4 linked regions of the Homo sapiens genome follow. The protein of the gene in region 4 purifies or fractionates together with the protein of the main gene of each other region. This does not show direct contact. Each region holds a gene or a part of one and is shown on either strand. Other genes may lie near its edges.

The links.
Region 1: the proteins of PCDHB11 (region 4) and TMTC2 purify together in Homo sapiens (affinity purification with mass spectrometry; 2 studies listed by BioGRID and IntAct, with this or other methods). This does not show direct contact.
Region 2: the proteins of PCDHB11 (region 4) and CELSR3 purify together in Homo sapiens (affinity purification with mass spectrometry; 2 studies listed by BioGRID and IntAct, with this or other methods). This does not show direct contact.
Region 3: the proteins of PCDHB11 (region 4) and SPECC1 purify together in Homo sapiens (co-immunoprecipitation; 3 studies listed by BioGRID and IntAct, with this or other methods). This does not show direct contact.

Annotation. Positions count from the first base shown.
Region 1 is NC_000012.12:82,682,642-82,689,905, reverse strand, and holds the start of TMTC2 (protein O-mannosyl-transferase TMTC2 isoform 1 precursor), read right to left. Parts: upstream 3,001-7,264; 5' UTR 2,320-3,000; coding exon 2,237-2,319; intron 1-2,236. UniProt on the Homo sapiens protein: Transfers mannosyl residues to the hydroxyl group of serine or threonine residues.
Region 2 is NC_000003.12:48,645,464-48,653,230, reverse strand, and holds part of CELSR3 (cadherin EGF LAG seven-pass G-type receptor 3 precursor), read left to right. Parts: intron 1-43; coding exon 44-229; intron 230-677; coding exon 678-794; intron 795-1,182; coding exon 1,183-1,354; intron 1,355-1,512; coding exon 1,513-1,654; intron 1,655-1,751; coding exon 1,752-1,872; intron 1,873-2,155; coding exon 2,156-2,339; intron 2,340-2,649; coding exon 2,650-2,751; intron 2,752-4,015; coding exon 4,016-4,110; intron 4,111-4,302; coding exon 4,303-4,512; intron 4,513-4,769; coding exon 4,770-4,965; intron 4,966-5,234; coding exon 5,235-5,390; intron 5,391-6,302; coding exon 6,303-6,468; intron 6,469-6,973; coding exon 6,974-7,141; intron 7,142-7,362; coding exon 7,363-7,489; intron 7,490-7,581; coding exon 7,582-7,767. UniProt on the Homo sapiens protein: Receptor that may have an important role in cell/cell signaling during nervous system formation.
Region 3 is NC_000017.11:20,312,969-20,319,903, reverse strand, and holds the end of SPECC1 (cytospin-B), read right to left. Parts: intron 5,929-6,935; coding exon 5,839-5,928; 3' UTR 878-5,838; downstream 1-877.
Region 4 is NC_000005.10:141,194,887-141,203,145, reverse strand, and holds the start of PCDHB11 (protocadherin beta-11 precursor), read right to left. Parts: upstream 3,520-8,259; 5' UTR 3,372-3,519; coding exon 978-3,371; 3' UTR 1-977. Other genes in the region: PCDHB10 (protocadherin beta-10 precursor), read right to left, coding at 8,191-8,259. UniProt on the Homo sapiens protein: Potential calcium-dependent cell-adhesion protein. May be involved in the establishment and maintenance of specific neuronal connections in the brain.

The sequences.
Region 1 (7,264 bases), on a different chromosome or scaffold from region 4:
ATAATTCACAGTTACAGGCCCTCAATATTTTATCAATATATACTATCTAGACATCATATTGAGCATGCTATCAATAAAATCATATGGGCAAATAATCATACTATATTCACCTATGTAGCTACAAGATAGAAGTCACGAATTTTAACACTCCATTAGACTATTGCATCTGAAAAACTTACAACTGCCAACCATCAAAGCACAACTAATTTATCATCACACTCACACCATTCTTCCAAGTTACAAGGTCCAGTCCTAACACTTCTGATGACTCAAGAGCACAGAACAATTATACCTATAGAAAAATGCATATCCAAATTTAACCTTAATTTTTAAAGAATGGCTTCTTCTGATGTGTATTTTCTTAAGGATTAGACAGCAATGAACAAGGGCATACAATAGGAATACTTGATTCACCACCGTGTTCTATAACAAGTTGCATTATTATAATAAGTTTCTTTTTTTAAATAAACTCTATATTCTTGGTTTAAATGCTTACTATTCAAACTGCCCCCAAGAGCCAGTAACTGCCCACACTGACCCAAGGTGGTTTTAGTGAAAAGTCACCCATCAAGTTGCATTATTATAGTAAGTTTCTTTTTTTAAATAAACTCTATATTCTTGGTTTAAATGCTTACTATTCAAACCGCCCCCAACAGAGCCAGTAACTGCCCACACTGACCCAAGCTGGTTTTAGTGAAAAGTCACCCATCTTTGGAAACAAGGGCTTTTTCCACGAATATGCTAGAAATAGCAGGTGCACCATTACACAAAATTGGAGAGAACAGAAATTTACCTCACTCCTACAGACCATTTCTCAGAGCATGCTGTGTAGTTGCTAAAATCAGTATGCTGCGTAAAAGTTAAGAAAAAATGTATGTCTAACAGTGGTTCCCTATCAACTAGCCTCTGGTAGGCACTACATAAAATGCATTAAGACGGGTTTGCTGGATGTTCTGGCACCTATTATCAGGTGATTTTTTAACAGAGATGTGAAGATGCTTTTAGCAGGAGAATGGGCACACCAGAGAATACAGAATGTGGCTAATTACGACGAGAAGAAGATTCTGCCTTCACCTCCCCTCACTGTCAACCACTTTGCGTAAGTGCTCTCACTGCCTCGCCCTAACCCTGGGGATCCATTCACTTTTCATAGCTCAGAGAGGCTGCTGAAAAGCTGTCAAAGTAAATCTGTGCTCACTTTTTGGATGGTTTAATTTCAATGGAGCATGAAACACCCCAGGACGGTTAATAAGTTTAGCCAGGCGTGCTGTTATCCCTAATATATTTTAATTATGCATCTGTTTTAATTGTAATCAGATTAAGACACCGGAAGGACACAAATTGGAATTTTCCCTAATGGATATAGGGGCTTTTCATCACTTTCTGAACACTAATAACGTTTAAAAGATAGGAAGAGACACCAACACAACGGTGACATTTTCCAGAAATCGATGCAGTTTCTTTGACAACACAGTTCAGGTCTCATTAGCCACCCAAACTAACCTAAGTGCAGAAGACAACTTCAGTCTCTAGGGGCGTCTTCTTCTCCAATTAGTACAAAAGAACCACTAACATCTAATGTACAACTCCCAAACAGAAATGAGAAAGCCGAGGCTTTTATAAAGTGCTGCCCAATGGATTGGTGAAGGAGGCTAGGGCGGCGGGAGAGACCATCAGCAGCATTATTTTGGCTCAAAGTAAAAGTCTATACACGTTAAAAGGGAAAGTTAAAGCAGAGAACGATCTCCCTTTTCACAATTTTGGCAACTATCAAACGTGTGTTTTAACTTCGGGAAATAAAAGTGTCCCATCAATAAAAGGAAACGGGACAGGGAGGATCTATCAGGGATCGAGGAGAGGCTTCCTCCCAACCAGACGTAAAATCACTTAATGTGCTTTGTTGCATCAAGGAATACCTAAGACTTTAATTTAATACGTTCATTAAACAGTTTCCCAAATTGCCGGGATTTCCGCTAAGAAACTCAAGCGTCTGCCAACAGCCGAGAAGCAAGGGAGAGAACCTGCTGCAAACTAGGAGCGGAAACTCCCTCGGCCCGCCCAGCGCGCCTCACGTCCCCGGTGTTTGATTTAGGTGTTAATGTTTACGTGTCGCCTAAACCATCAGGTGCTGAACCAGTTCCTCCAAGACGCACTTTGAGCCTTAAAGAGGGAAGCTTCAGAGCCACTGCGGAGTGTGCCCCCTGCAGCCCGTCGCCCCCTCCTCTCGGCCCCTTACCTGTCATCATAGCAGAAATCCGCACTCAGGGTGTTGAGATACAAGGCGAGCCCCAGAGCGCTGCTCACCAACTCTGCAATCATCTCTCCACCGCCTTCCCTCCGGCTCGGCTCCCAGCGCGAGGGCAGCAGCGGCAACAAAAAACAGAAGCATCAATCTCCACCTTCCGCCGCCTTCTCCTCCCAGCTTCACTTTTCCCTCGCTTCCCCACCCTCCCTCCCTCGGGTCCTTCCAATCCACGACTCCTCTCCTCCTCCTCGCGCCCGTCTCCGCAGCTCCTGCGTCCTCCCCGGGTGCGGGCTCACACCACACTCCCCATGCCCGGCGCCCGCAAGCGGTGAGCGGCGTTTGGGCTCCGCGTCCCCCGGCGGAAGCGCAGGGCTGGTCTTTCGCGCGGGTCGCGATCCCCACCCTAACCCATGGCAGTTTGGGGCGTCCTAGGTGAGGAGTGGGACTCGGAGGAGGTGGAAGGGTGCGGGATGGGGGCAGAGGGACCGGACCAAGCCGGGCTCTGGGACCAGCTGGAGGAAGAGAGAGAAAGAGGCGCGGGTGGGAGGGACAAGGCGAACCGCCTCCCCTCGCCGCCTCCCGGGCGCACTGCTCCGGTGTCGCTCGGGCGGACTCCGGCCGCCAAGGCAGCTGCTGCACATTCAATGTTTATTAGCTCCCTCCCAGCCCCAGCCCCAGCCCCAGCCCCAGCTCCCTTCTCCAGTGAAGTGAGAAGCGGTGGCTGGAGACTCCAGAAGCTCCCGCGTGGGGTTCTCGACGCGGCCCCCCGCGCCTGCGTGACCAACCCTCCATCCCGGCTTGGCCCAGCCCCTTTCTCCACCCAGATCCTCCCGGAAGGCTCCTCCTACCCTGCCCCTCGGGCTGGAGGCTCCTCCCACCCTCCCCGGCCTGGAGGCTCCTCCTACCAGCCTCCCGTCCTCTTGTTTCTTTCACCTTCGATTTCACTCTGGAAAGCCCCCGGGACCCAAGGGCGACGGCTGGAAGACAGCCCAAAGGAGTAGATACAGTGCACCCTGGGAGGGGAAGCTGGGAGAAAGGAGGTCGAGGAGGAGGTGGTCGGTCGCCCCGCTGCTGCCTGGCAGCGCCTGGCACGGCTGAATCTCAGCCACAGCGCTGTGTGTGCCAAGAGCTGCCAGGCGTAAGTCCGGTCAGCTGGAGAGACTTCTGAGACCGGGAGAGGAAGAACAGGTTTGGCGACTGCTGCAGCTTCGGTTGTCACAAACTCACTGGCGATCTCTCACGCACACTGTGTGTGAGACTAAATGGGGGGGAGGAGGTAGTATTGGAGAGCTTGGAGGCAACTTAGGAAGGAGAGATTTCAGCTCTTAGCCTACGGTTGGCCACAATGTCAGTGGAAAGACGTGTAGGGAGAGAAACGTTTCCTCCTTCAGTAAGGTTAAAAAGAAAGGACCCCAAAAAGGGAAAGAAAGACACACACACACCCCGCAGCAACTGCCCGGGGACCCCTTCGTGGTTTCAGAGGGACTGTCGGGTTGACCCTGAGAACACAGGAGAGAAACCTCTAGTGCAAGCCGGTACAGCATTATACTTAAACCTAGTAAGGCAGTAAGCTAATGCCCTTTCCTTTCCGCTCGGAGGCAGGACTGGATGGAAAGCATCCAACATGGTGAAATATGGTGTAGAATGGTCTGTGTAGAACAAGCTCTGGGTACTAAAGTTGCAAGACCAAAGAGGACCCAGGGCTGCCTGACACGCCTCCTCCCGGCTTGTTGGCTTTCTGGCCAGGAGAGTAGCTCCGGTGCACCGCGATGTACACTACTGCAGCGCCCCCTGCTGCATAGTAACCACAAGGTGTGGAAGACAGGTCTGTTTTGCATGCGGGCCGACTGGTTCCAACCAAGAGCAGCACCTAACCAGCAAGCTCTCCGAAACTGTGGCAAGAAATTGAGCCCCCTGGGTGTCTAGCAGTGGCCTGGAAAGAAAATACCGTGGTCTGGGCTTCTGTAGAACAAAGCTACATATTTCCCTGATTTCACAAGGAAATCTGAGAAATCTGTATTGGATACACACAGATAAAATGATGAATATTTATTAATATTATACCTGTTATGCCATCCACAGTAGCACATTTTTTGTGCCCTGGACAAATATATGTAAACAAAAATAAAAGGAATTATGTCTTTACAGGTAGGGACTGATCTTTTACCCTTTTCCTCCATAACCTTTGCTCACTTGAAAATTTTGAAAATCATATCAGTTAGTCCATCCTGATGCTCTGTGTCTCTCCAATGCACTTACATGCTGAGATATATATAGTATATATAAAATATGTATATGGTGTCCTAGAACACTGAAGGAAGAACACATACTGTGGGATCAGATGTTTAAGTTTGAGTGCATACTCTGCTATTACTATTTGGGCGATCTTTGGCCAGTCGTTCAACCTCTTTGTGACTCTGTTTTCTAATCTATGAAACAGTGATAATAATAGTACTTATCTTATGAGTACTGTTATTATGAGTATTAAAGTAGTTAACCTATGTAAAATATCTAAAAGGGACCAGGAAAGTGCTACAGAAGTATTAGCTAGTATATCATTATTACTATGCTTTCTAGCTTCCTCGTTTCATTTTACTTGTTAACAAAAACCTGGACAGTTACCTCCAAAACACATCCTATCACATCTTTACTACTTGAGTCCACAGCCCAGCTGCCCTCATCTCCTGCATAGACAAATGCAGTAGCCCTCTAAGTGGTCCCCGTACTTCTACCCCTGCAATGCCTCCCTTCCCCAATTTTAACTTTAGGCAGAAGTTTCCTTTGAAAACCTATACATTCCCAATTTTTAAATGTTCCACAACTTCCTGTTGTATTTTTAAATGTCCAACAACTTCCTGTTTTACAGCTAATAAAACTAATTCTTACCATGGCCAGCCAAGCCTTCATTTAGCCCAGACTACCCCTCCCGCTTCATGTTGTGTTCATATGTGTACAACACAGACATCCTTCTCAGGAACTAACCACTTTCTCTTCCTCCTGCATGAGGTTCTTCTCCTCAAACCTTCTCTAGCTCCTTCTCACCATTCAGGTCTTAGCTCAAATGGCATAACCTCAGAAATAAAGTAGGCTCTCCCCCATCAATCTCTATCCAACCACCATGTATTAGTTTCTTCATAGTATGTATTAGTATCTGGAAGCACCACTGAGTGGAAGCTCCATGAGGTCAGGGATCCTGTCAGTCTTCTTTTCCACATAAAACCCAGAGCCTATAACATCTGGACACGGAGAAGAAACTTTAAAAAGATTGTTAATAAATGAACAAAATAAATGTGCTTAGGAGAAACTACGTAACAGCTGGAAAATCCAAAAATTTTCATCGCTGATTTATTGTTTGTCGTTAGTGTTAAAGATCGTGAAGTATTAACCAAGGAGAGAGGAAGGGAGCAGGTTCACAGTTTTTCAGAATACATCAAGTCTGCAGGAATACCCGTGAAGGGGAGTCACATGGACAGGTCTCTTCAGTTATTAAGAGGACTCAGATATGTAAAAATATTAGAGAGCTTTGGGTTCCACATGCTAAAAGCTTGTAAGCCTTTTCCACAGCTGTGTTCATTTTTAAGGCTCCAATAGTTTAATTTAATTTTTAATTTTTTTTTTTTTTTGAAACAGAATCTCACTCTGTCGCCCAAGCTGGAGTGCAGTGGCCCGATCTTGGCTCACTACAACCTCTGCCTCCCGGGCTCAAGCGATTCTCCTGCCTCAGCATCCCCAGTAGCTGGGATTGTAGGTGTGTGCCATCAAGCCCGACTAATTTTTGTATTTTTAATAGAGACGGGGGTTTTACCATGTTGCCCACGCTGGTCTTGAACTCCTGACCTCAAGTTATCCACTTGCCTTGGCCTCCCAAAGTGCTGGGATTATAGGCATGAGCCACTGCGCCCAGCCATGGCTCCAATAGTTTTAAATAAATTTTATACACTCCTCCATCTCCTCGTTTTCTCCTTTCCCCACCTCCCAATACCTCTGAATTGGAAGCCTAGGTGACTGGGAGATGGGCTGTAAAATGGCACATCTTGCCTTCCCTGATAAACAGAAGGCTGAAAACCTAGCTGTGTTTGAGAAATCCAGTTGCTTTTAACAAATTTTTCTATTATAATTTAATGTAGGTTTCAATATCCTTCCAGAGCATTAAGCCATGGTCTCTTTTAGATTGCTCTCCAAGGGCTGAGAAGCAGCCAATTCCTGAATTTTCTACCTTCCTGGAACAACTTTAGGAGGAAAATCAGATTAAAGATGTCATCATTATTGTTGGAGATCATTTAAAATCTGAGGACATAGGTTTTTAGTTTATCAAGGTGTACTTATTTGATGTAAGGTTGCAGCATCAGTTCTGAATATGTGTATGTTCTATTTAAAGCGACAGTTGCTCTCCACAGGTGAAGGAAATTAGGATGGCTGGCTTGAATTTTCTACCTTAGACACAATACTGGCCAAAAAAGCGCTAAGCCCTTATTTTCCTGAAGTAGGCTCCACACATCTGCTACCTCACCACTTCCTCAATGAATTCCTTTTTATAGTAGCCCCGACCTACCCTGCATTTGTTCTGCATTCTCAGTCCTTTGTTGTATAATTCATACCTTTGCAGTGCCAGTTCCTCAGGGTAAAGATTTCCTTATTTGCCTAAGACATTTTTAGTTTATTGTGCAATACTATCTTCCCTTTGGGTGTTGCATAAATATTAACTAAAGATCCACATCTGGTCCTGGTCGTCATTTCTATTTGTCCTAATATAACTTCTCTTTGAACAATTCATTTGGAAAGTGTGCCAAGGGTGAAATGTGGCACGTAAATTCTCTTGCTGCACAGAATGCTTTTTAAAGTGCCCACAGATTTGGTTATTTATGAGCAGGAGATTTGCGCCTCTTCCTTGCTCTCTCAATTCTAAAATTGTACTGGGCCAAAATAATTACAATCTTCCATATGTTTTCTGAAAAGGTATCCAAGTATCTCCTGCTAAAATTTTAACAGATTGACTAAGAAGCAGAAAAACACTAGCCC
Region 2 (7,767 bases), on a different chromosome or scaffold from region 4:
CACATGGGGCTCTAACCCCAGGGCTATGCATCTCTGCCCACAGCTAGATCGGGGGTTACTGTCTGTGACAGTGACCAGGGGCTCGGGCCGTGCTTCCCATCTCCTTCTGGACCAGGTGACTGTCAGTGATGGCCGGTGGCACGATCTGCGGCTGGAGTTGCAGGAGGAACCAGGTGGCCGGCGGGGCCACCATGTCCTTATGGTCTCACTGGACTTTAGCCTCTTCCAGGTCTGGCCTCTGACCCCGGGGTAGTCTGTTCTCAGCCTTCCAACCAGATCCGCCTTATTTGACCCCACCTCTAGTCCAGCTCCTCTCAGTTCCCTCCACTGCACTGAGTCTGATGTTCTACCCCTAGTTCCCCACCATATATCCTTGCACTGAGCCCACCCACCAGCCAAGTTGGTCCACTCTCAAGCCCTCTTTGTGCCAGATTTGGGGCCTGGTCTTGGGGAACCTCTGTAGCCAGCACTTTGCCTGATTCCTAGAAGCCCCTTCTAGTCTCTGCCCCAGTCTCTACCCACCCCCGGTCAAAATCAAGCAATATTAAGGTCTACTGTGGGTCCAGGAGGGAGGGGGCAGCCTAGAAGGGCTAGAAGAAGGCCAAGACTGACTCTGGGCTATGACAGGGGTTCATCAGGCCCCTCTCCCTCAGTGCTGACTGCCCCACTTCCTCCAGGACACCATGGCGGTGGGGAGTGAGCTGCAGGGCCTGAAGGTAAAGCAGCTCCACGTGGGAGGCCTGCCCCCCGGCAGTGCAGAGGAGGCTCCTCAGGGTCTGGTTGGCTGCATCCAGGTGGGGGTCAGCATGGGAATGTGATATGGGGCATTAGGGTCAGGGGTCAGAAGTCAGGGGCTCCTTGGGACCTGAAAGGCAGTATTCAAGTGGGGGTTGGTGCGAGGGGGTGAATGACCCAGAGTTGAGAGCTAGGTCAAGCCTTTCTGTGGCATTGGAGGTGGGAGTCTAGCTTGGATTATCAAGGGCCTTTAGGAATCTGTGTCAGAAACAGCACAATTAGGGTCCCACAGGGGTACCAAATTGGGGATATTTTTGAGGCCTGGGTTTTTTGAGGGTATCAGAAGACTGCATGTCAAGGATCATCAGACCGGGTGGCTGGCTCTGCAGTACTTGAGGCTGAGGTGCCTTAACATGGTCTCACCCCTTGCTGGCTGTGTGTCCACAGGGGGTGTGGCTCGGCTCCACACCCTCTGGCTCCCCGGCCCTGCTACCCCCCAGCCACCGAGTGAATGCGGAGCCTGGCTGTGTTGTGACCAACGCCTGTGCCTCTGGGCCCTGCCCACCTCACGCAGACTGCCGGGACCTCTGGCAGACCTTTTCTTGCACCTGCCAGCCAGGTGAGCCTTGAGAGGGTTGGGGGAAGGGTGACCTGGGCAGGCGTTAGGGGCCCATGATGAAGACTGGGGAACCTGAAGGAGGCAGGGACTCGGGACGGGTGCCTGCTTCCTTCCATGCTCTGCGACCAGGATCCTGAGCTTTCTGACCCAATCTGCAGGTTACTACGGCCCAGGCTGTGTGGATGCCTGCCTCCTGAACCCCTGTCAGAACCAGGGATCATGCCGGCACCTGCCAGGAGCCCCCCATGGCTATACCTGTGACTGTGTGGGTGGCTATTTCGGGCACCACTGTGAGCACAGGTAAGAGGCTGGGGCTGAGGCGATGGGGAGACCTGGCAGGGACAGGGAGGGTCACTGGGATACCGTGGAGGCATCTTACCTGGCTCTGCACCCCCAGGATGGACCAGCAGTGCCCACGGGGCTGGTGGGGGAGCCCAACCTGTGGCCCCTGCAACTGTGATGTTCACAAAGGTTTTGATCCCAACTGCAACAAGACAAATGGGCAGTGTCACTGCAAGGTGCGCCTGGCCCCTGACCTTTTAACCCTTCCTTGGACGCAATCTGCAATTCCTGTCCAGCTTGCTGACCTCCGCCACCTGACTTGGGCCCTAACCTCTTGCCTGTGTCCTGTGACCAAGTTGCTGTCTCTCATCCTTTACCCGTGACCCCTCCCTTGGCTTCACGCATGACCCAGGTGTCCTCTGGCCCATGAGCACTGTTCTCTTGACCCTTTATCCTTGATTCCACTCATTCCCCAAGCCCTGACCTCTGACTTCAGGCCCCTGGCCCATCCTCAAACAGGAGTTCCACTACCGACCGCGGGGCAGTGACTCTTGCCTCCCATGTGACTGCTACCCTGTGGGCTCCACCTCGCGCTCATGTGCACCCCACAGCGGGCAGTGCCCCTGTCGCCCAGGAGCCCTTGGCCGCCAGTGCAACAGCTGTGACAGTCCCTTCGCAGAGGTGACAGCCAGCGGCTGCCGGGGTGAGCAGGCTCCACCCAGCTCCACCCATAGAGGGCTGGTTCCAGTGTGCCACCATCACGTGTCAGTGGCACACATGGCTCCTTGGGGACTCTGGAAGCTTCTCCTGAGGGAGACCACTTACACCCAGGGAACCCTACCTTTGCCCCAAGTACTTTGCTGACCTGTCACAGAATCTGACAGGTCAGCTCCTGAGAAGCCAGCAGGAGTGGCGGGCAGTGGGCCTTGTGGGGGGTGGTGGAGGGGCAGTGGGTGTGGCTGTCAACTGCCCTGTACCCTGACTGCCTGGCTCAGCACCTCTTCTCTCTCTAGTGCTCTATGATGCCTGCCCTAAGTCCCTGAGATCTGGTGTGTGGTGGCCCCAGACAAAGTTTGGCGTCCTGGCCACAGTGCCCTGTCCCCGGGGGGCCCTGGGTGAGTATGTGGGGGGAAAGGACATCACTGAGGGTGGGGGTGGGCCTGTACTCTGACTGCTAGAGCCATGTCTTTTCCTAAATTGGGTGGCTTTGTTCCTGCAAAGAGGTGGAAGTGGGGTGGGAGTCCATGTGGGCCCCTCCCTACACCCTCATTGAGCCTCCATCTGTTTCTCTTGGCTTCTGGGCAGGATTGCGGGGTGCAGGTAAGGGGTACGTGTTTGCTCAGGTGCACTGCCCCCTCCCACTACCAGAGCTTTTGCAGACCCCTCCTGCTGCCTGAGGTCCCTGCAGACCCCTCCCTGCTGCCTAAAGTCCCTGCAGGCCCCTTCTGGCTATCTGAGTACCCCAGGGGCCCTTCTCTGATGCCTGAGATCCTCAGAGACCCCTCCCCATTGCCTGAGGACCCTGCTGACCCCTTCTCAGTTCCTGGGGTCCCCATAGAACTTTCCCCACTGCCTGAGGTCACGAAAGATCCCTCCTCAGTCTGAGGACCCTATAGCTCCTTCCTGCTGCTTGGGGGCCCCTCCCCACTGCCTGAGGTCCCCTCAGAACACTCCCTGCTGCTTGAGGTCTCTGCAGTGGCTGGACAGAGATTGTTTGTGTACGCATGCTCACGTGTGTATCTCTGTGCCTGTGCACGTGTCTGTGAACCTGTTGCGGGGAGGGGATTCTGTGATTAAGTTAGGCTCTCTCTTGTTGGTAGCTACAAACTTTTTTAAGATCCAAGTCAATTCTCATTCAACCTCCATCCCAACCCCAGAGACAAGGGAGAGAAATGACAGCAAAGTAACCACTGGGGCAGTTAAAACTTGTGTGAGAATCCTCCCACCTGACTTTCACTGGATGTTCCTAGAAGCCCTCTTCTGTGTTGGCATGTCTGTGTGTGTGCGAGAGAGCATTGTGTGTCTGCGTACTGGTCTGGTCCATACATCTGTGTGTAATTGGTGAGCATTGGTGTGTGTCTGTGTGAACCAGCACATCTATGAGCCAGTCCTGGCCCACGTGGGTGAGTGTGTGCAGCCCCACCCTTGTGCTTTGTGTGGTTGCTGGTTGAGAATGGTCTACAGCCCTCTCAGGAATTGCCTGACAAGCAGCTGGGGCCTACCTGGGCTTGGGCCGCTACCTCCAGGGGTGCAGCTATAGATGCTCATGACTCTGACTTCTGCCTCAGGGATTCCCCCAGCATAGGAGAGGGTGCTGCGGTTATCTCCTCAGCAAAGGTATCCAGGCCCCAGGCCTGACCAGGGGTTGCCTGCCTCCAGGTGCTGCTGTGCGGCTGTGTGATGAGGCCCAGGGTTGGCTGGAGCCCGACCTCTTCAACTGTACCTCCCCTGCCTTTCGAGAGCTCAGTCTGCTGGTGAGACTGCCCAGACCTTTTCCTGCAACCTAAGACCTTCCTTGGCCTGTGGTGGGCCCCAGATACCACACCCTAGCCCTTGAACTCCTGAGCCTTTCCTGGTTGCCCTTTAATCTGGCAAGGCTTTCTCCCTGTGAAGCTTTAGAGGAAGGCCTAAGGGACCACAGAGCAACCATCTCCTTGTCTTGGCAGCTGGATGGCCTAGAGCTGAACAAGACGGCACTGGATACCATGGAGGCCAAGAAGCTGGCTCAGCGGCTACGGGAGGTGACTGGCCACACTGACCACTATTTTAGCCAAGATGTTCGAGTCACTGCCCGCCTGCTGGCCCACCTGCTGGCCTTCGAGAGCCATCAGCAGGGCTTCGGGCTGACAGCCACACAGGATGCCCACTTCAATGAGGTGGGGCTGTGCCCTATGTTCTCAGTGCCTTGGCCCCCCAGCTCCCAGCCTCCTGCCCCTGGATCCCCAGCTCAGGCTCCTGCTGTTCTCTTGGGAAGTGAAGGTCCTGGGCTCTCCCTCTGTCCTTGTCCTCTCCAGCCCCGCCCCCTTGCCTGTTGGAGCCCCTCTGAGCACCTGTCCAGACCTCTCATGCCTGCCCTATCCCCTCATACATCCTCACCACCTGGCTGAACCCAATTCTATCTCTGTCTTCCCAGAATCTGCTGTGGGCCGGCTCTGCACTGCTTGCCCCAGAGACAGGGGACTTGTGGGCGGCGCTGGGGCAGCGGGCCCCTGGGGGCTCCCCAGGCAGCGCGGGACTGGTGAGGCACCTGGAGGAGTATGCAGCCACACTCGCAAGGAATATGGAACTCACATACCTGAATCCCATGGGGCTGGTGACGCCTAATATCAGTGCGTTGTGGGTGGGGTAGGGCGGGGCACAGCAGGGGGGCCATGAAAGGGCAGGTACCTGAAGGTCTGAGGGGCTGTGGCTATCAATGCCAATGTTAATGGCAGGAGACTCAGCCACCGCCCTCAGCGTTTTGTAGGGACAGGCTCCGAGCTGGTAGCACAGAAAACAGATTGTGGGACTCAGGTGCGGGATGCGAGTAAGAGGGAGTAGAACCCTTGGCAGGGGGAAGAGGTCCATGATGGGCCTCCCCTTTCTTTCTCCTGGGTAGTGCTCAGCATTGACCGCATGGAGCACCCCAGTTCTCCCCGGGGGGCCCGTCGCTACCCTCGCTACCATAGCAACCTCTTTCGAGGCCAGGATGCCTGGGATCCTCACACCCATGTGCTGCTGCCTTCCCAGTCCCCACGGCCATCCCCATCTGAAGGTGAGAGCCCCTAGGGGACCCCTGGGCCAAGTCCTGTCTCTCTGTCCCCCCAACCAGATACTATGTTGCCCTCCTGCCAATTTTCCCCTTTCTAGACCTCCCCAGTGTCAGACCCTCCCACATCTCCCCTCCACCCTCCCTCCCATATTTCCCCTCCACCCTCCCTCCCACATCTCCCCTCCACCCTCCCACATCTCCCCTCCACCCTCCCTCCCACATCTCCCCTCCACCCTCCCTCCCACATCTCCCCTCCACCCTCCACCCTCCCACATCTCCCCTCCACCCTCCCTCCCACATCTCCCCTCCACCCTCCCTCCCACATCTCCCCTCCACCCTCCCTCCCACATCTCCCCTCCACCCTCCACCCTCCCACATCTCCCCTCCACCCTCCACCCTCCCACATCTCCCCTCCACCCTCCCTCCCACATCTCCCTTCCACCCTCCCTCCCACATCTCCCTTCCACCCTCCACCCTCCCACATCTCCCCTCCACCCACCACCCTGCCTCTCACATCTCCCCTCCACCCTCCACCCTCCCTCCCACATCTCCCCTCCACCCTCCACCCTCGACCCTCCCACATCTCCCCTCCACCCTCCACCCTCCCACATCTCCCCTCCACCCTCCACCCTCCCACATCTCCCCTCCACCCTCCCACATCTCCCCTCCACCCTCCCTCCCACATCTCCCCTCCACTGTCCACCTTGCCACACCTTCACTTTGTCAGAGCCTCTCCCTCATCACAAATGACCCCTCCCAGGCCTTGACTGTTACTTTCTGGGTTCATGCTCCCTGCACTCCCCAATTCTGCTCCTGCAGGGAAGAGACCCCCATGCTTGATCGGGTTCAGAGCTGGGTTGGTGGGTGCTTTGGGTCAAAGGTCACTGACAGAAGCTCCTCCTTCTCTCCTGGCAGTTCTGCCCACAAGCAGCAGCATAGAAAACTCCACCACCTCAAGTGTGGTCCCCCCACCAGCCCCGCCAGAGCCAGAGCCTGGGATCTCCATTATCATTCTCCTCGTTTACCGCACCTTAGGGGGACTGCTCCCTGCCCAGTTCCAGGCAGAACGCCGAGGTGCCAGGTACTCAGGCCCCTCACCCCTGAGCTTCCTACGAACTTCTCAGCCTGGCAGCCCCTTTTTTGGTGGGTAGATGCGTAGGTTCACAACACACAGAGAGGAGCACAGCTCCAGGGAGCCCCATCCTTGCCGGGTTCTGTGTGAATCTTATTCTCTGGAGTTGTGCAGAGTGACAGAGCCACAGGCTGACAGACACAGAGCCACACACAGGAGGGATCCATGAGCCAGGTACAGACAGACCAAAGGGCTGACAGAGACAGACAAGGACAGGCTGACTGATGGGGGTAGGAGGGAGGGCAATCAGAGGCAAACAGTTGCAGGTCCCCTGGAGCTGCTCAGCCCCTCAGCAGCCCAGCAGAAGCTGGAGGGATTCTTAGAAACAGCTTCCACTCTGGGGACATCCCAGACCCTGGGTCAGCCCTGGCGAGTGGCATGAAGACGGGGTGAGGCAAGCAGGCTGAGCATGGGGAGGTCAGCAGTGCGTAAGCCCAGATGGGTGTCTCCCCAGGCTTCCTCAGAACCCCGTCATGAACTCCCCGGTGGTCAGCGTGGCTGTGTTCCACGGACGCAACTTCCTAAGGGGAATCCTGGAGTCCCCCATCAGCCTAGAGTTTCGCCTGCTACAGACAGCGAATCGGAGCAAGGCGATCTGTGTGCAGTGGGACCCACCTGGCCTGTGAGGACCCCCATTCTGGAAACCCTTGGTCCCGTTAGCCCTTGGGAGGCCAACTAATAGTCCCAGCCTTCCCCTGGGGCCCCCACTAGTGCTGTTGTGCAACCCGGACCATGAGGAATGCTGTACCCCAACTCCAGGCACCCTCAGCCCTTCCCATGATCTCTCACAAACCCCTGCCTGACACTGGGTCACAGTTGTGTCTAACTGCCCTGTGGCTGCAGGGCGGAGCAGCATGGTGTGTGGACAGCACGGGACTGCGAGCTGGTGCACAGGAATGGGTCCCACGCACGGTGTCGCTGCAGCCGGACAGGGACCTTTGGGGTCCTCATGGATGCCTCTCCCCGTGAGGTGGGGCTGTGTTCAGTGTCCCAAGGAAGTGGGGGGTCAAAGGGACACGGGGATTCTGCCCAACAACCCATCAACCATCCCTGTCTCTGTAGAGGCTGGAGGGCGACCTGGAGCTGCTGGCTGTGTTCACCCACGTGGTCGTGGCTGTGTCTGTGGCTGCGCTGGTGCTGACTGCAGCCATCCTGCTGAGCCTGCGCAGCCTCAAGTCCAATGTGCGTGGGATCCATGCCAATGTGGCAGCCGCCCTGGGGGTGGCAGAGCTCCTCTTCCTGCTGGGG
Region 3 (6,935 bases), on a different chromosome or scaffold from region 4:
CTGAGATGAGTATTGCAAAGGAAGAAGGCTTTAATCAGATGCTGCAGCCGAGGAGATGGGAGCTCAGTCTCAAATCCCTCTCTCTGACCAACTAAAATTAGGGATTTTTAGTATAGCAAAGAAGAAATGTAACTATGTTTAAGAAAACATGAACTAGGAAGGGGTAAGGAAGCAATCATTTACAAAATATCTGTGGCCGGGCGCAGTGGCTCCCACCTGTAATCCCAGCACTTTGGGAGGCAGAGGCGGGTAGATCATGAGGTCAAGAGATCAAGACCATCCTGGCTAACATGGTGACCCCTTGTTCTCTACTAAAAATACAAAAATTAGTTGGGCGTGGTGGCACGTGCCTGTAGTCCCAGCTACTCGGGAGGCTGAGACAAAAGAATCGCTTGAACCCGGGAGGCGGAGGTTGCAGTGAGTCAAGATCGTGCCACTGTACTCCAGCCTGGCGACAGGGCTAGACTCCATCTCAAAAAAAAAAAAAAACCAGAAAAAGAAAAAAAGTATCTTCACCCTGCCTCCTCAATCTTGGCATAATTCCCCCTGCGAGTGGTTTCTGGGGTCTCAGTTGGCATTTAGTCACACATTGCACATATCGTGTGCACATCTGCACAGCTCAGCAGTGTCCTGGGTAGGCCTTGAAGGGTGATCTTCACGTAAGCCTGTGGCCTGAGCAAGAAAGCTGCACACGGGCAGCGGAGGAACCAGCAGGAGCCCAGTCCTCTGTGGAAAATTCCAGCACCACCCGCAAGAGCAGCTGCAGTGGAGACTGTGACCCGACAAGGATATATGCATGAAGATGCTGGTCTGAAAACAGACTCAGTTTAAGGGTGGCACTTTGAAAAAATATTGATAAATGTCAGTGAGAAAAAAATAATTAGAAACAAAATATATTTATTAGAAATATTACAGTCATTTATCATACACTTTCCTATGAATAGTTAAATACATCTAATTAGCATGTCATATCCAAAAGTGCTGGGTACAATCTAGTGTGCTCTTTATAGACACGAGGCCACAGATGTATCAACTACACTCAACTAATGTAGTTAAAGTTAGTGTGCTAAAAAAAAAAATTAGTGTGCTATTCAGGATGCTACAGATTTAGCAAAATTCTAACCTGGATCAGAGGAGTGAAATGCCCCGTGAATTGAGGCAACTGTAGATATTCGAAATGCTTCTAAAAAGGCTGTGAGGTTATGTCCTTTACTGCATGTCATTGGTAGGTCATCTCAAAATGGCACTCGAGCTTTGGAAGGGTGAGAACTATTGCTAGATTTGGTAGGGGGTCTGCATCTATGGGCCCGAGTCCTCCATCTCCACAAGCTGCCCCTCAGTGGGGAAGAGGAGGGGGAGGCTAAGGGAGTCTCCGTAACGTTTGTGGGCAGCAGGGAAGAGAACATGGCAGAGATTCCTCACCGCTGGATGGCTTGTCCCCTGGGGATGTGTGTTTTTATCTAACACCCACCTGCATCTACTTGGGTTGGTCTCTACAAAAGCTGTAAAACAAAAACTGAATGAAAAAGGAAAATAAAAGACTAATATTTTTGAAATGAGAAGGGGCTAGGACAAGAGAAGCTCCTGAGAATGTTATCCCCGCAGGGCGGGGGCCATGGGTTACCATCAGACAAGGAAAATTCAATCCATGTTCAATGCAGAGAACAGCGACTTCTCACCTTGAAAAACTCTCCAACTCTACTGGGGCTTGCATTTTGCAGCTGTCTTTCATGTAAAAATGATACATTAAAAAAAGGATCTTCAGAACAACTGAAGAATTTTAAATGACTACTGGCTGAGGGAAGATGGAAAGAAATGTGGCTGTTGTGGTCTTTGAAATCCTCAGGACAGAAACTGGGAATGGCACACTCTGCTGAGTATAGAAAAAATAAGATGCTGACCTTGTTTTCCTGCCAACTTTCCACCTTCACCTGGTGCTCTGAGCTCTGTTAAAAACAGACCTAAAAACCCTACCCCTTGGCCTAGCTGGGTTGGGGACTGCCTCCCCCAGGTCCTGCACCTCCACACGCCAGCGGATGGCTTGGGGGAGCCCTACTAGCTGCTGTGCTAGAAGGCCTATTCCTGGACTCCTGAGGCCATCAGTCACAGTTCCAGGACCCCAGCAGAACCTTCCCTTCCCCAAAACACCACCTGTATTTCTTTTTTTTGTGTGTGTGTGTGACAGGGTCTTGCTCTTTGGCCCAGGCCAGAGTGCAGTGGCACAAACACAGCTTACTGCAGCCTCAAACTCCTGGGCTCAAGTGATGCTCCCACCTCAGCCTCCCAAGCAGCTGAGATTACAGGTGCCTATCATTGTACCCAGCTAATTAAAAAACAAAATTTTGGGCCAGGCGCGGTGGCTTACCCCTGTAGTCCCAGCACTTTGGGAGGTTGAGGCAGGCTTATCACTTGAGGTCAGGAGTTCAAGACCAGCCTGGCCAACATGGTGAAACTGTTTCTACTAAAAATACAAAAATATGCCAGGCATGGTGGCATGTGCCTATAATCCCAGCTACTTAGGAGGCTAAGGCAGGAGAATCTCTTGAACCTGGGAGGCGGAAGTTGTAATAAGCCAAGATCACACTACTCTAGCCTGGGTGACAGAGAAGTGAGACGCTCTCTCAAAAAAAAAAAAAAAAAAAAATTTTTTTATAGAGTCAGAGGTCTTGCCATGTTGCCCAGGCTGGTCTCAAACTCCTGGGCTCAAGCAATCCTCCCACCTCAGCCTCCCAAAGTGCTGGGATTATAGGCATGAGCCACCATGCCTGACCACCATGTGTATTTCTATGGACAGGACATGGCATTCCTCTTCTACATGCACACCACTGGCAAATAAAAAAAAAAAAAATGGTAGTCGGGGAAACTCCTGGAGTTGTAAAAATAAATTGTACATGGCCTTTCATGTTTCTTTCCTTCTTTTTAACCTAAAGAGAGCAGGATACAGACAAAAATGGGGGAGTTTGGCCACAGTCATTGGCAACTTGGGCTCCCAGTGGAGAGGGGCTGGTATGGCCCCAGCGGGGAGGGAGGGACACCGCAACGCCATTGCTCAGAGCTGGTTCTAGATGATTTACACGTAATCACTCAAAATAGAGCCAATCACAGGCCAGGTGTGGTGGCTCACTCCTGAGTGAGCTGAAATCGCGCCACTGGCACTCCAGCCTGGGCGACAGAGCAAGACTCTGTCTCAAAAAAAAAAACAAACAAACAACAACAAAAAAAACACAAAAAAACAGCCGGGCTCAGTGGCTCATGCCTGTAATCCCAGCACTTTGGGAGGCTGAGGCAGGCAGATCACCTTGCCATCAGGAGTTCGAGACCAGCCGGGCCAACATGGTGAAACCCCCTCTTTACTAAAAATACAAAAACATTAGCTGGGTGTGGTGATGGGCACCTGTAATCCCAGCCACATGGGAGGCTGAGGCAGGAGAATCGCTTAAACACGGGCGGCGGAGGTTGCAGTGAGCTGAGACGGTGCTATTGCCCTCCAGCCTGGGCAATAAGGATGAAACTCCATCTCAAAATAAATAAGTAAAAATAAAAAACAGAACCAATCACAGAAAACACCCACTCCCACTCCGGGTATCCCAAGACAGCAACTGCCTCCCCACATAAAACCCTGGACTAATTCCAGCTTAAATCTAACAACCAACAGCTCAACTCAACTACTTGGGATATTACTTTCCCCCACTTTAATGGTGGGCAAAGAAGAAGTACAGGGTTAATAAAAAAAAAATGCTTCAAACAAGTGCCTGAATCAGCAGAAGTAGTAACTTTCAGGTTGAATTGGTTCTATGTGTCGAGTTTCATTTAAATACAAAGGCATGGGTGATGTAATGACCATCGCCCAACAGCTGCTCAGGAGCTCCCGCAGGCTGCCTGCCTTGTGGCTGCCAGGGGAAGGTGTCCACCCCTCAGTGGTTCTCCAAGCAGCTGTGCTTCAGTCGCCTAAAGAACTTACAAAACATGTGAACTGCATCTCTGGTCCCATTCCAGACATTCTGAAGTTAACCAACTAGGGCAGCCAAGAGTGTTTTCAAAAGGGTCCACTGTAGGTTCTGATGCAGAGCTGCAGCTGGGATGCACTAACAGGGGGGCGGAGTTCTTGTCTCAAGGTGGCTTGAGAATCAGGGATCTGCTGACCCGTGCAGCCCAGTTGCCACCTCTGCAAAGGTCTGGCTTGGAGGAAGGGACTGAGCTCCTACCTCTCCAGGAATGGTAAGGGGCTGGACCTGCAGCCTCTAGAACCTGGCTCTGAACCAGTGGCTCAGATCAGCAATCAGAGATGTACTTTGAATAGTAATGGCAGTCACTGTCATTCTCGGTGACTCACTGGAAGGATGATCCTTTGTTGGAGGGGCGCTAACACGCTATTTGGCACTTAAAACAGCAAGGGATGGGCATTACCCATTTCCCTCAAACAACTGTGTGAGCCACGCCCTCACTCGCTGTGTAGTGCACACAGATCCGCCCAGAAGAACACGGCAGAGCCACCAGATGGGCACTCGGGCCGGACTGAGCACTTCTGAGGGACTGGGGCACCGCTGGGGAGGGCTCTGCTGCCACTTAAGGTGACCAGTAGGATGCTGGGGCAACTGCATTCTTCTTTGTTAGTTATAAATGTGCCCTCACCGCCCACCCCTAAGGGCTTTTCCCATGCCGATGAAAGAGGCCTGGGGAAGCACTAAAGGCCAAATCAGTCCAGAGCCGAAATACTGTTGGGATTTGCTGTCAGCCCAGCATCCCCAGAGGCACACACCCTCAGCCTGCTCAACCCTGTAAAGCAGACACAGGCCATTCACACATGTGACCTCCTGTCAAGTTCTGTGGGGTACAAGCCTGTGTGGATGTGAACGGGAGGGTAAACGAATGGGAGGACAAAGGCGCAGGTGACGAGGACTGCGGTTTCCCTACTGTGAAAGCCGCGAGCTGCTCAGGAGCACACAGACTTTGGTGGCAGAGGTGTGGGGCACCTCCCAGGGACTCCAGCAAAGCAGCCAGGGGCTCCCTTGCATTCTCACAGGCTTTCCTTTTGCTACAATAAATCAAATAAGGGATGGTGAGAGCTAAAAGTGAATCAAGTTCCAGGTGTTAACATTGTTACCTAGAACTCCCATTTTTCCCCAAAAGGCTGAGTGCGCACGCACGTTTCCAGGTTGCCCTGGAACAAATGTTTATTTTTTGTGTTTTGTTGTTTTTTTTTGGGGGGGGAGGGGGGAAGGGAGGGTTCACAAGGGCAAAGTTTTGGGTTTTATCATTTTTTTGAGACAGGGTCTGGCTCTTTCACACAGGCTGGAGTGCAGTGGTATGCTCATAGCTCACTGCAGCCTCGAACTCCTGGGCTCAAACGATCCTACTGCCTTGGCTTCCTAAAGTGCTGGGATTACAGCCACGAGCTACCACACCCAGCCAAGGGCAAAGGTTTCATAAAGGCAAAGCCGGGATATTTTTAACAACAGCAACCAAAAGACTGATTTGGAGATGTTCTTTGTCTGAATTTCTGCAGATAATGTGTTCGTTCAGCCACCCAATATAATCAGCAAAACAAGCCTGGGTGTGGGGTCTTGGTCTGGAAGGAGGGAGGCTGCCCTCTTTAGAAGCATCCCACAAGAGATCAAAGAGTCCCCAATTTACAGTCCAGCTGCATTTGCATTTCAGACAGGTACATCGTGGGACCCACTCTGTTTCTTATTTGGGTGTTGGTCCACTTGGATTGAGCCTGTCTTTGAAGTCTAGGCAGCTGGGTGGTGGGCAGAGCAGGGTCAGTGGACAGTAATCAGGCGCTTCCAGGAAAAGCTGCAGTAGGTGGCAATGGTGGCTGCCCCAGGCCCTCCAGGGTTACGTCTCAAAGTACTTGTAGATTTGGGCCACGTACTGCATCACACTCTGCCAGTCGGGCCGGTCTGTGTACAGCATCTCGCTGAGTTCCTGCAGGGGAAGGGAATGGGGGACAGATCACAAGGCAGGACATCACAGACCCCTTCCCCTCAAGGACTTCAGTCCAGGTTAGGGCTTACACTGCCTGGAAACCCTCCACTTACACAGACAGAACGTGAAGGCCAGCACAGGTGGTGCTGAAAGCGATGAGTTAAAGGACTTTTCCTCCCACTTATTCAGGAGATACTGTCCCTTTCCAAAAACGGAAAACATGACCTCCCACTGCTTTTATCTTTTAACCATATGACAGCATTTAAACAAGTTTTAAAAAGCAAAAATCACCCATAATTTCACTATTAAAATGATTTCCAAGTTTCTAAATTACATTTGAATCCACCTCTAATTCCCCAGACTCCCAGCACACTGCACGCGCTATTACGTGGGCTGTGCCATTACGTGGGCTGAGCATTTCACACCCGGGTCCCCGTGCTGCTGTGCCACTGTGCGGGCTGCCATTCTAGTGAATGTGCACTCACCAGGGAAACTGCTGTCCACAAGGGACATGGCATCCAGTGTACGCTCACCTCGTGACCACCACAGACTCTGCAATCAGCATCTTTGTGCAGTATTGTTTCCTTCTGTCGAACTAGTCCCTCAAGATAAATTACTGAGTGGGATTATCACAAAAGCCTTGAACCAATTTCAAATGCAACCATTTATTTTACCAGCATTGTTACTACTTAATGTGTTTTTTTGTTTGTTTGTTATTTAATACAGTTTGGTGATTTTTTGGCTTATTTTTATTTTACTTTTGCTAATTTGCTGGTTTTTACTGACTGATTTATTTTTGTTCATTTTGCAAGTAAGCTTGTAATGAGCATGCATAACATCCAGGCCAGAAAGGGAGGGGCAAGAGGGTGGGCATCCTGTCAGGCACTCAAACTTTTCTGAAATTTGTGCCACTGGACATATTTAATAATTAACTTTGGGATTGAATTTGGATTCTGTGTGGTTAAAAGAGAATAGTAGGAAAGGACCCTGATGTAAAGCCAGAAGCA
Region 4 (8,259 bases):
ACACCAGCCTGGGCGACAAGAGTGAAACATCGTCTCAAAAAACAAAACAAAACAAAACAACCTAAGAGAAAAATCAAAGTCAGTTTTCTAGAATAAGAAATAATAATCAGTAAATTATTGTACACTTGGAAAGGATTAAAACCTTAAAATTATTCATTAGAAATGGATTAACTACCTGTTACTTAATATAAAAAGGATTTACAATGTTATTCACAATGATATGCAATACTTGAAAATTGAAAATAGGCCTGGCCGCCTGTAATCCCAGCACTTTGGGAGGCTGAGGGGAGTGCATCTCTTGAGCTCAGAAGTTAAAGGCCAGCCTAAGAAATATGGTGACGATCCGTCTCTACAAAAAATACAAGAAGTAGCCGGGCATGGTGGCGCACGCCTGTAGTCCCAGCTACTTGGAGGCGGAGGTGGGCTGGTCTCTTGAGCCCAGGAGGCAGAGGTTGCAGTGAGCTGAGATCCTGCCACTGACCTCTAGTCTGGGTGACTAAGACTCTGTATCAAAAAAAAGAAAAGAAAAGAAAAAAAAAAGGCCGGGCGCAGTGGCTCACACCGGTAATCACAGCACTTTGGGAGGCCGTGGCGGGTGGAACATGAGGTCAAGAGTTTAAAACCTGCCCGGCCAACGTGGTGAAACCCCGTCTCTACTAAAGATAAAAAAAAAAAAAATTTAGCCGAGCGTGGTGGTGGGCGCCTGTAATGCCAGCTACTCGGGAGGCTGATGCAGGAGAATTGCTTGAACCCGAGAGGCGGAGGGTGCAGTGAGCTGAGATCACACCATTGCACTCCAGCCAGGGCGACAGAATGAGACTCGGTCTCAAAAAAAAAAAAAAAATTGGGGGAGAAAAGAAAAAATTAAAAATACAATTAGTCGTATTGCATAATAACGTAACTAGTTTAAGACTAAATAATATTGATATGGTTACATAAAACTAAAAAAGTACATGCAAATGTAAATAGCATTCTTACTAAAAATTAAATCCAAAGCTATTTCGAAAGGTGGAGTTTTCTTCACTATTCTTCCCAAGACCTTTTGCCTGGATATTAGGGATAACCGGTTTTAGGAACTTGAATTCATTTGTCTCGGAACCTCCCGTCAGACACACCTCGTACTGGTAGCTCTGGGAAAGGGTCCCGGTGCCGCTCACGTCCACCAGATGCCCTGGAAAGGGGCCCTTAGGCACCGAGCAGCTTCCCACCGAGGCCGCCCTGCTCCTCCTGCACAGCCGCACCGCCACGAACAGGAGCACCGAGAAGAGGAAGAGCGAAGACACCGAGGCCAACGCCACCACCAAGTAGACGGTGAGCGAGTCGGCCTGGGCCTGGGCCGGTGCCGCCTCAGGGAGCGGCAGGTAGGGCTGGGAGAAGCCGTCCACCAGGAGCACTTGCAGCGTGGCGGTGGCCGAGCGCGGAGGCTCGCCATTGTCCTTGACCAGCACCACCAGCCTGTGCTTGGCCGCGTCGCGCTCGCTCAGCAGCCTGGCGGTGCGCACCTCGCCATTGTGCGCCCACACGCCGAATAGCCCGGGCTCCGTGGCCTTGAGCAGCTGGTACGACAGCCAGGCGTTCTGGCCCGAGTCGCCGTCCACCGCCACCACCTTGGTCACCAGGTAGCCCGGCTCGGCCGCCCGGGGCACCAGCTCGGTGCAGGGCGCGGAGCCGTTCTGCAGCGGGTACAGCACGAAGGGCGAGTTGTCGTTGGCGTCCAGCACCAGCACGCGCACCAGCGCCTCGCTGCTCAAAGCCGGGGAGCCGCGGTCTGTGGCGCCCACGCGGAAGTCGAAAGCCTGCAGGGCCTCGTAGTCCAGCGACCTGAGGGCGAACAGGTGGCCGTTGTCTGTGTTGATGGAGACCAGGGAGGCGAGGGGCAGGTGCAGGTCCTGGGGCGGGAGTAGCGAGTAGTTGACCTGGGCGTTGGTGCCTGAGTCTCTGTCTGTAGCGCTGACACTGCCGATGTGCAGGGCGGGGCTGTTGTTCTCGCGGACGAACAGGGTGTAGGAGGTTTGGGTGAAGGTGGGGGCGTTGTCATTGACGTCAGAGACCAACACAGTTGTGTTGTGCTCGGTTTTCAGCCTGGGTATCCCCAAGTCGGTGACGGTGATGGTGATATTGTACTCGGCTGTGCTCTCTCTGTCCAGTGGTCTCTCTGTTTCCAACGTGTAGTAATTCTCAACTGAAGATTTTAGCACGAATGGGAGGTCTTCCGGAATGGAACAAACAATTCTTCCGTTGTCCCCAGAGTCTATATCTTGGATACTAAAAACCATAACCACGGTCTCTGGCGTATTTTCTGGGATTGGACTGGTAATTGATGACACAGTGATTTCAGGAGCATTGTCATTTACATCTATCACGTGAATTATGACTGTAGATTTTCCAAAAAGTCCTCCCCCATCTGTGGCTTGAATGATTATTGAGTATGACTCAATCGTTTCAAAATCCAGAGGTGCTCTTAAAGTAATTTCTCCAGACTTTTGATTAATTTCAAATGTCTTGCGAATATCTTCTGAGGCATGGGAAAAGGTATAGCATATTTCACCATTTGTTCCAGAGTCTAAATCCCAAGCTGAGACAATCAAAATCAGCGAGCCAAGGATGCTATTCTCCCGAATCTTCACCTCATAAAAAGCCTGCTCAAATTCAGGGGAGTTGTCATTAATGTCCACAACCACCACCCTGACCAAGGCAGTTCCAGACCTGGGAGGGGACCCACCATCCAGAGCAGAGAGGATGAAACTGAGCTCCGGGAGCTCTTCATAATCCAGCGCCTTGTCCAGAACTAACTCGGGGTATTTCCTATTGTCTGGAATGACTCTCATTTTAATGTGAAAATGAGAGTTGGGGCTTATTGTGTAGCTTTTTACAGCATTGATTCCTACATCTAAATCCTTCGCACTTTCTAGTAAGAACACAGCACCAACGGGACTGTTCTCTGGGATTTCTAGGAGCATTTGTTTTTCCGAGAAGATGGGAGAGTGATCATTTATATCCCTGACCTGAAGCTCAATTTGTAAAAACTGCGTGGGGTTTTGCATTAACACCTGCAAATGTAGCACGCAAGGCTCGATGGAACCGCAGAGCTCCTCCCTGTCTAGTGTTTCACTTAAGAGCAAATCCCCAGTGTTTATGTCCAGCTGCAAACGCTGTTTCTTATCATTAGAGACCACCCGAGCCCCCCGTGAGGACAGTTCTCTCACCTTCAGCCCCAGGTCCTTTGCCAGATTGCCTACAAAACTCCCGCTCTGCATTTCTTCTGCCACAGAAAAGCTCCAGGTTTCAGAGCCCGCCTGAGACATTCCGAGCAAAACAAAGAGAAGCAGGACTTGCCTTATCTGCTGAGTGCGTGTCCCTTGGTTCTCCATAGTTCCTTTCTTGTAGGCTTCTTGAAGAAAGGCTTCAGCTCTGCGGAACGCGTCTCTGACTTGTCCACCAAATCCTCTGTGGTCTAAGGATTTTAACCCTGTTGAATGGTTTCCAGGTCACCCTCTTGAAGGCTTGTTGTTTCTGTCTTCTGATTCTCTGTGTGCACTGGATATCAGTGTTCACAACGCCATCCAGTGAATATATTTTTCACGATGTTATCCTGCAGCGCCACCAAGTGTCTCCATAGATTTTCACAGTTTGGTGAAAGCTACCTAAATTCCATTCACTTATATGTCCTCCGGAAACAAATATTGTTTTATTCATTGTGTTCAAGTGATTACAAATATATTGCACGTTCTGTAATAATTATTTCATATTCTCTTTAGTTTGATATGCTGTTAATATTCATCTTAAAGCATTTATCTTTCCCCCTTCTCCATACAACCAAACGTGCTTAGTTGTGGTGAATACAGAAATACAAGATGTGATTCCTGGCTCCCAGTGGTTTGTAATCTTTCTGAGAAGACTGGAAACATAAAACAACCATAATATTTTTAAGCTGTACAAAATTCTATCACTACTTGACTTTCCTTAGGTGGTAATGAAAAGGCAAACTATACATGGGTCATTTTAGAAGTCCTCTCAGAGGATATGAAACTGGATTAACCATGAGATGGGACATACTTTGATAGTTATGATAGCACAAGAAGGCATTTATATAGATTTCCTTGGTAGCAAGGAATTGTGAACTGCTAGAAAGTAAAGTAAGATATTGGGAGTAGAACACATTATGAGAATCCTTGATTTAGTTCCAGCTTCTCAAAAAATAATAAATACACAAGCACAAGCATGTTAGTTTCATTTAAAGCAGGCTTATTTCTAAGACTGCCCTCCCTCAGTTTCCCAAGATTTATTCCAGCAACATCTATGGCTATCTGCTTTGTTTTTCAGCTCAAGAAGACAGAATGAGAGATATTTTCTTCCTCAATAATAGAACAAAATCTTAGCCTTCATTCTGATTAGACCAACTGAGAGCACTTCAGCCTGTTACTGAAGAAATCAGTGTCTCAAGATGTATAGGATTAAAGGTAGAGATTATAGTCCCAGAATCTAAAGACTCCATCTTTGACCCTTTGTTTTAATCCAGGCAGAGATTGCCCCTTAAACTTGAGGTGGTTTCAGTCCTAGCCAAAGTGCATGGCATAATGAGGGAGATAGTTGGAATAGGTGCTTGGAAACTACCAATGGTATCCACTGTTAGACATCTCAAAGTACTCTCAATAATGGAGGACATCTAAGAAGTCTGCTTTTAAAAATTCTAATTTCAAATTACATTCACAAAAATGTGAACTAGATACATGGTTGAAAAATTATCAGTGCAGAAGAGTAGAAATTGAATAGTATGTGGATTGACTATACAATTATCCTTCCTTCTTCTTAACCCCTCTCTAAAATGACAGAAAAGTAATAAAAGGTATGAATTCACAAAGACTAAGAATACATAAGTAAATACACAAATTATTTGATGATAGAAAGCAGATGAAAGAGCAATTGACAATAGTTCCAAGAAATGTCTAAAATAAAGTTCCTTCATTGGAGATACTAAAAATAAACTACTGGGTTTTCCCTACACAATCCTAGTAGGTACCAGACTTGGAGGAACCAGGTGTATAAGAAGGCTGAAGTCAAGTAAGGGCTTAAAAAAGAAGTTATTAGTTGAAAGTATGTATGTAGGATAGTTGAATTCTCTGGTCTTTTCACCATCATACAGAGACAAGAAAATAACTGAGAGCCAGAGAATGGAAAGCTTATACTCTGGAGAAATTAGATTATATTCTGGAGAAATTATACTATCTCCAGTCTTGGAAACCCCAGGCAGAGCTGAGTGAAAGTAGGAGGTATGAAACTAAAGATAGGGAGATTAGGCAAAACACTGCCTTCTGTATTGTGAGACTCCTAGCCATGATACTCTCAGATTGTAGGACACAAGATATATGCCTGACATCTTCCCCATCGCACCCAAAACATTGAATATTGTAGAATTCTATCCTGGGGAATATGAAAGGCGCAGATAAAGACTTACATGTACTGATATGTGGGGGTTTCCCAAGGTAGTAGCTCTATCCTAGCATGGTTACATTAGAGTGAAGCCCTGTCATCAATACTCATGAAGTGTTGACTGTCAGCATTTGCTGTGTCACCATTCATATATATAATAAGACAGTCAAAGATAACAAGACATTTGAGAAAATGCCTACAACATGAAATAGAAAAGCCAAAACTGTAATACTACCGCCAAGCACAAAAAGCAACAGGAGGGAATAGATATAATTCAGAAAACAAAAGAAAGCCTTTTAAAATGTCTGATTAGTATCCCCAGAGAAACAAAATGTAATAAGAGCTAACACTTATTGACTTATTCTAAGTTCATTATTCTAGTGCCTCATATGGATTTACCTAGTTGATGTTAACAGTAACCCTATCAAGTACGTATTTATACCTGGAAGACAAAGAATAGCTTAGGGCTTAAGTGCCCCTTACTAGCTATATAGCCTTAGGCAAATTCTTAACTTCCCTTTGATTCACTTGCAAGTTTAAAATAGGTATAATAATAACTCTTACTATATAATGCATTTTTAAAGAATAAATAGATTAATTATAGATGAAAGAAGATTTACATTTGCAAATTTGTAATAGGATGTTATGAAAAACCAAGAGCTCTTAAAAATAAATATTTGCTATCCAAAAAGAAAAACTTAAATATGGAGATTGGATGATTAAATAAATTGTCTAATAAGTAGAACAAGAGATGGAAAAGAAGAAAAAAATTATAATTTAGAGTCTCAGAAAATCAACACAGGAGGTGCAATATTTAATGAGATTCTGGTTAAAGTGAGACTGTAGAAAACTCAATGGATAAATTATTACTAAAACATAACAAGAAAATTTCTCAGAACTTACAGTAAGAGTCTATATGTTAACAGGGTATGCCTGCATGGCCAGATTAATAAATAAAATGCCTGTATTAAGGTCTTTTCAGATTACCAGGAAAAAGTTTTTCAATGCTTCCAGGAAAGGAGGTAAGAGAGAAGGACACAAAGAGAGATGGAATCAAAATCAAGTCAGTCTTCTGAAGAAACTCGACATGCAATGAGTAAAAGAGACAGCTTCAGCTTTCAAAATTTGAGGGAAAATTATTTTCAAACTAGAATTTTATACCCAGTCAAACTATCAAGCAAATGAAAACAAACAAAAAAGATGTCTTCACAATGTAAGGAGACAATTTTTTAAAAATCTCTTCTGCATTCGTTTATATGAAGGTCTTGAGAGATGCGTGCCAGCTGAATAAGAGAGTAAACTAGAAAAAAGAGTATACTGGACCTTGGAAAAGTAGACTCATACAGGAAAGTATTGAAGGGAAAAAGTCCCAGGGTAACAGTCTATAGATTAACCAGTCTAAATGAAACAGGAAACTCACGATGAAAGAGCTCCTGAAAATAAATGTCATTGACAGAGTATCTTAAAAATTGGAATATTTTTAAGGAGAAAATACATTCAAATGAAAGATATGGAAAAAAACAATAGAGGTACATAGAAAATAATGCAAGTATGAAATAACAATTACGAACTCTAGGAACCATACTTTTCAAGTATGGAAATGTAATTCTAGTACAGTATACAAATGCATATTCTGAAGCATGTAACAATATAGATAATAACCACTAATTTAACTAAGAAACTGTGACATCTATATTGGAGAATAGGAGAAAAAGAATTTGCAATGTTTGCATATGTTTGTTAGTTTGGAAATAAAGCTAAAATGCTTTTCTATTATAGAAAGAAATGGTTCAAATACAAAACAATATCAAGATATAGTATTATAAACATATTATTTATAAATATTGAGATCAATTCAAGAAGAAACCACACTGTGGTAAGGGACTGGCAGAACAGCTAACTTAAAAAACTATAAAATGTTAGTTATATATAGTATATATTTTATATATAGTAATATAAAAAAACTGATGAAACTTGTTTTTCATTCTAACCTTTAGTTCCTCTTGCTTATTAAAAATTTGGTATTTAAAATAAATTTGCAACATATAAATGAATATCTCCAGCAATCTCAACCACACATTTCAAAATGTTTTATTTTTATTCATTTTCAGGCAGATTATAATTTTATTTCAATTATAAGGCATAGTCTGTTTTATACATCAGCAAAAGTTAACATAAGAAAATATTGGCCAAGTAAAAGTAGCATGCTTAAAGATAAAATAATAAGTATATAAACTAAGGGTATTATTGATGTTCAGTATTGCTCACAATATGCTTTGTTTCATTTTGTCATGAGCATAGTAGTAGAGAAATATTTCTTTTTAAATACATGATGTAGAAATAAATGACATGGTTTTCAAACACGAATATATAGAATGTTAGAATGAGTTTGGAAATGTAGATATGCCTTCTTAAATAGAGCAAGTACACTATAGACAGAAGTGATTAGAATCATGAGATGCAAGCTCTGAAATGAATCAAAACCTCAGATTTCTGTAATGAGATATAATAGTAATTAATTCCTTGGGCAGTTGGAAAGAATTAAAACCTTAACACTATCATTTAGAAAAAAATACTCATTAAATTAAACCCAGTTGTTATTAATGCAAAAAAATGATGAAACATTGTAAAACCACAGGGGTATACTACTTGAAAATAATGCTTGAAGTTGCATAATAACTTAAATTTGAGATTTAAAAGTAAACTAATAGAAACATGGCTATGTAACACACCAAAAGTATATGAAACTAAAAACAGACTTTACTGAATATTAAATCCAAAGCTATTTCGGAAGGTGGAATTTTCTTCACCCTTCCTCCCAGGGCCCTG